Regions from separate parts of the Homo sapiens genome. Here region 1 is linked to region 2. Evidence: fine-mapped expression QTL. A gene starts in region 2. The other region holds a variant in brackets. All regions are shown on one strand. Distances are from middle to middle.

The links. PIP is the estimated chance that this variant, and not a neighbour inherited with it, causes the effect.
Region 1: its variant is the best candidate, but not a certain one, in a credible set for the expression of TM9SF2 in whole blood (TOPMed, PIP 0.54).

What each region holds. Positions count from the first base shown.
Region 1 is chr13:99,569,496-99,572,408 of GRCh38, forward strand. No RefSeq gene overlaps it. Among named protein-coding and RNA genes, the nearest start is that of LINC01039, 6.2 kb to the right of the region's middle. The variant G/A (reference allele first, on the strand shown) is at 1,414.
Region 2 is chr13:99,499,937-99,502,849 of GRCh38, forward strand. TM9SF2 (transmembrane 9 superfamily member 2) reads left to right here and starts at 1,536. Exons shown (of 17, transcript NM_004800.3): 1 at 1,536-1,841. The coding sequence starts at 1,671. It overlaps LINC00449 (long intergenic non-protein coding RNA 449), which reads right to left and starts at 1,127. Exons shown (of 2, transcript NR_133664.1): 1 at 459-1,127; 2 at 1-4. RefSeq lists enhancers at 1,242-1,421, 1,328-1,916.

The DNA of each region.
Region 1 (2,913 bases), 70 kb after region 2:
CCTCTGCAAGCAAATGGAGAATTATACCCCATAGAGGATAAAGGGTTTTTTCCTGGGCTTGGTTTGTGTTCTGTAATCAGATCATTGTTTTATTTGAGAAGTCTTGCTTTTGATATAACCAAAACTGCTCAGGAAAAAAAAAAAAAAAAAAAGCAGGGTTGGTGGGGTGGATGCAATGGCTCATGCCTGTAATCCTAGCACTTTGGGAGGCTGAGGTAGGAGGATTGATTGCTTGAGTCCAAGAGTTCGAGACCATCCTGGGCAACAAAATGAGACCCCCATCTCTACAAAAAAAAAAAAAAAAAATTGGCATGGTTGCACGTGCCTGTGGTCCCAGCTACACAGGAGTCTGAGACAGGAGGATCACTTGAACCCAGGAAGTTAAGGCTGCAGTGAGCCATGATTGTACCACTGTACTCCAACCTGGGCAACAGAGTGAGACCCTGCCTCCAAAAAAAAAAAAAAAAAAGCTCAGCTGTTGGGAAAGGTTTTTTAAACCTTTTAAAACCCTCAGAAAGAAAGGTCTCTCCCTATGAATAGCAGGACATTCTGGGGCTTCATTAATATGTAAATATATGTCATTAAGAAAATGTTTTTTCTGGCTGGGCACAGTGGCTCATGCCTGTAATCCTAGCACTTTGGGAGGCTGAGCTGGGTGGATCACGAGGTCAGGAGTTCAAGACCAGCCTGGCCAGTACGGTGAAACCCCATCTCTATTAAAAAGTACAAAAATTAGCTGGGTATGGTGGTGCATGCCTGTAGTCCCAGCTACTCAGGAGGCTGAGACAGGAGAATCGCTTGAACCCAGGAGGCAGAGGTTGCAGTGAGCTGAGATCGCGCCACTGCACTCCAGCCTGAGTAACGATACGAGACTCCAAGACTCCGTCTCAAAAAAAAAAAAGTTTTTTCATATTTGTATTTTGTGTTCTATAGCCCAAGTAGATGGTGACCATAATTTCTCTGCCTACAAGGTTCTATATGTAGAAAATCATGCTTTTCTTTCTCAGATATTTTGATGGAACCAAACCTGTTTCCTATGACTGATTTGTTCTCTCCTTTACTATGTAATTTGAAGTCTAAACACTAAAAATCACTGTTTCTTCACATTCTCTTGCTTTTGGAATTCCACTGGAATTTTTTTTTTTTTTTTTTTGAGATGGAGTCTCGATCTGTCGCCTGGGCTGGAGTGCAGTGGTGCGATCTCGGCTCACTGCGAGCTCCGCCTCCTGGGTTCACGCCATTCTCCTGCCTCAGCCTCCCAAGTAGCTGGGACTACAGGCGAGCGCCACCATGCCTAAATAATTTTTGTATTTTTAGTAGAGATGAGGTTTCACCATGTTAGCCAGGATGGTCCTGATCTCCTGACCTCGTGATCCACCCACCTCAGCCTCCCAAAGTGCTGGGATTACAGGC[G/A]TGAGCCACCGCACCCGGCCTCCACTGGATTTCTTCACCTCACTCTCTTGAACTTCATATACACATGCTCAAATTTGATTCTTTTTTCCCTTTTATTTTTTGACCTAATGATTATTTGACATTCTCATTAATAATGAATTCTTTGGCTGGGCACGGTGGCTTACACCCGTAATTCCAGCACTTTGGGAGGTTGAGGCGAGTGGATCACCTGAGGTCAGGAATTTGAGACCAGCCTGGCCCACATGGTGAAACCCTGTCTCTATTAAAAATACAAAAACTAGCCGGGCATGTTGGTGGGTTCCTGTAATCCCGGCTACTTGGAAGGCTGAGGAAAGAGAATCTCTTGAACCCAGGAGGCAGAGGTTGCAATGAGCCAGGATCGCGCCACTGCACTCCAGCCTGGATGACAGAGCGAAACTCCATCTCAAAAAATAAATAAATAAATAATATAATTAATTCCTTTATTTAGTGAAGAAGAAAGCATGGCTCTAAAAAGTCCTGTTAATTCCTTCGGATATTTTTAGCCAAAAGTGGTCTAGGCCACGTGAGTGGTGTTGACCATGATAAATAAATAGCACTATAATAGGTCACAGGTCATTAATTTCTCTGAAAAGAGTTAAATATGAGATATAAGTTGGAAATGATATATTTAAGGATTAGAGTCCACTTTTTAAAAGGTTTTTACTGATAGCTTACAATTAATGACATTGTATACATTCAAATTTAAATCAGGTTTTAAAAATACGCTAAATGTTTTAGGGTTAGCATTATTATCAAAGAAAATCATAGGCTGTCCAGGTCAGAGAGAACAAGGCTCCTCTGGCTCATGCTAAAGCCAGACAAATTGTGCCACAGTTGACTAGGACCATTTCATAGACAGTGGTGAACCGAGGCAGTGACTCTGTTGACTGGGAACGGCTCATAGCCCGCTCTAAGCTGATACGAGCCACACTGGCATGAGCCACACTGCAGGGCACTCCTGCTGGCTTCCTGCTTCAGCAGTGCCAAGGGAAAGGAGCTGGGGACTTAGAACTCATCCCAAGACACAGCCACGGGGCCACAGCCACACTACAGGTCCCCTCGCAGGTGGCCACCACCGCCAGGACCCAGAGCCACCTTCCAGACTTGCCACTACTCTGCCCTGGATGATGTGACTTGGAAGAACTTTGCCAGCCCCTTGAGGAGAGGAGACATGCTGACACACTGATGATGCCACAGAATTGAAGTGGCAGAATCTTCTTCTGGACATCAGTAACCCAGATGGGAAGGACTGGGAACACCTGGGTGTAATGGATTCACTTCATGCTGGAGAAATGTGAGTTGGTTGTTGCTGGAATTGCACAAAGTATCCCCAGCAAAAATCCCTTCCTACTCTGGCAAACGTGCTGGCAGACAGTGACGACTTGATGCAGCAATGCGTGTCTGGGTTAGCTTTCGTCATCCCAGAGCCATCCACCCCCTTCGTCAACCTCCTGCCCAATATATCTGTGGTGCGTGTAC
Region 2 (2,913 bases):
GGTGCTAGGAAAAGAAGATAGTGAGCAAAAATGTTAATTTTTGTTTCCTCCTCTTAATATTTGGAGAAAACGTCTGCTTCCTTTTGTTATATTGGAAATCTCCATGACTTCCAAATACAGAATATTTTACAATTTTTCCCTATCCCAAAGTTCAGCGAATATGTTGATTTATTTGAGGGAGAGGACATGAAAGGGAAGCCACCTAGGCACAATTTTCTGCTCAGGCCCTACCAGATTAGTTTTTGTTATCAAAAAAAAAAAAAAAAGTGCCATTCCTTGGGCCAAGCTATGTGCTCAGCACTTTCCCTCCATTTTTGATTTAATCTTCACAACAACCTTAAGATGAACGTTCTTTTCTACTTCCCAGTTCTCTTGATTAACTTGGCTACCCCACTATATGGATCAATTTGCAGGGTCCTAGGTCCCTTTGAAAATCTGATGAAAGTTATAAACCTTACCTGGGAAAAAAGTACAAACACCCGCAAGAACTTGAAATAGGAGTTCACTGGCCCTCAACTTTCTGAGCTTACTATTTCACAAACCTGCCTATTCTTGAATTCTGAGCTGGAGGTCATGATTCTCTCTTATGTACTTTAAGATGATGCACTCTTCCGAAGTTTTTGATTGAACTCTAGTGGCTAACTGAATTGACTTTTTCAGATCACTAAAAAGCTTCTCCTTGAAAAATACTCAGAAGATGCAACACACACACACACACACGTGTGTGCACTTACACACGCGGACACCGTCTCACATCATCAGTGGGAAAAGTGATAGAATCTTGCTAAAGGCTGATCATACCATATTAATCCGATTCGCCAGAACTACTTTCTTCACTGAGCTCTCAGGTATGCTCGGGTCTTCCTTTAAAGAAAATAAATGTCAACGCTACACTCTATCCTACTCCCATTTTCCTCCTCACCCCATTTCCACTCTCCCTTAAAGAGATGTGTGCACACAATCACTGCCCAATGCAAGAATGCACCACTGCATCCAATGCTTGGAAATTGTCCGTGAAGATGCCTTTGAGTAGCTGTCTATTTGAGGATTTGTGGCTAATTCCTCCCCATTTGTTTCCTTAGCCTGCTCCCAACCAGGTGTCTCCAGAACTTTTTCTCTCCGCCACCAACTCCGCCTCCAGACAGACCGCAGGTGCTTTCTGTCATAGGGACTGGCGTGCCGCGGACAGTGTGACAAAGAAACTGTATGATGGATATGAGAACTTCGTAAGACCCAGCAGCAAACGGGGAGCGGCTGGCGAGCGCTCCACAGCCCCCAAGCGTGGGAGCTCTAGATCGGAATTTGTAATTTGGAATTGGAACGTGAGCGCCGGAACAGCTCTCCCAGCAACCACCTCTCCCAGCAACCACCTCAGCTGGCGCGCGGAAAACCCGGAAAGTGGATTTCGCCCCCGCTCCCTCCCGGAAACTCCTCCTGGTGCCTGCGACCGTTCTCACTGAGCATGTGCAGACGGCGGTGCGCATGCTCTGTTGCGGTCCGCTTCGGTTTCTGTTGCGGGACCCGGGGTGTCTCCTAGCGCAACCGGAACTAGCCTTCTGGGGGCCGGCTTCCTTTATCTCTGGCGGCCTTGTAGTCGTCTCCGAGACTCCCCACCCCTCCTTCCCTCTTGACCCCCTAGGTTTGATTGCCCTTTCCCCGAAACAACTATCATGAGCGCGAGGCTGCCGGTGTTGTCTCCACCTCGGTGGCCGCGGCTGTTGCTGCTGTCGCTGCTCCTGCTGGGGGCGGTTCCTGGCCCGCGCCGGAGCGGCGCTTTCTACCTGCCCGGCCTGGCGCCCGTCAACTTCTGCGACGAAGAAAAAAAGAGCGACGAGTGCAAGGTGGGTGAGGCCTGACGAGCCCTCTGATGCACTGTTGGAAGGGGAAGTCGTCCCTATCCGGGGGAGCTGATCCTCGGGTGGGAGCGAGGGAAGGGGGCGTAGCAGCGGGTGGGGTTGAGTTTCCCCAGAAGCTTTTGGGGTCTGCTGGGCTGTGGGTGGGGGGCTCTGAAACAGCCCTTGCAAGGGTAGTTTCTGGAGGACGCAGTGGGCCTCAGACTCGCCTCCCGTCTTGCGGGCCAAGTGGCACGAGCAGCTGTATTCAGTTTTCCTGGAACAGGGACCGTGTGGAGCGCCCTTGGAGTTGGGCTTCACGCCTCAGAGCTTTGGAGTTGGATGTATGCAGGTCCACGCGTGAGTGTTCGCTCACAGCCCTGTAACATGTACGCTGAGGAAGCGGGTGACCGACTCCCTACATGTGAGCAACACTCAGCCTAGTTAACAGTTTCCATTAGCTTTTAACTTCATTGCTTCCTGTTTAATTGCATTTTCCTGGAACCTTCTAGTTGGTTAGGAGAGCTTGTTCTTTCTAGGACTTTGATATCTCGCTTCACAATTAGAAGTTGGTTCCTTATTTGTGGAGTATAACACCCAGAGCCACACAAAGTGCATTAATAAAGAGTTGCTGTAATGGTTGAGGCACTTGATTTCTGAGTTTTAAGTGTAAAAGATTTTAATACACAAAAAAAGATACGAGGTCTCACTATTTTCTCTGAGATGGTTTTAAACACTTAAAAGGGGCAAATGGTGGGAGAAACTGGTGTTTTCCTAGGGCAAGTCTTGAAAACTTTGATCTCTTACAACATTCACACTCAAGGTTTTCAGTTTAATTGCTAGTAAAAGAGGCGTAAATAAAGTAACCTGCTTTTAGGTTATATGGTGTAGGGCTTTACAGTATACATACACAATTATTTCGTTAAGTTTATTTAAAACTTAACATTTGGGGGATGAGGATCTCTTTGAAACCTTTAATGATTTCAACAATTCAAATAATCGTTCAACAAACGTTTACAATCTATAAATAGGCTTATTTATTAAGTTTGATTTTTTTAAGCTGGTGTTTATTACAGTTAGC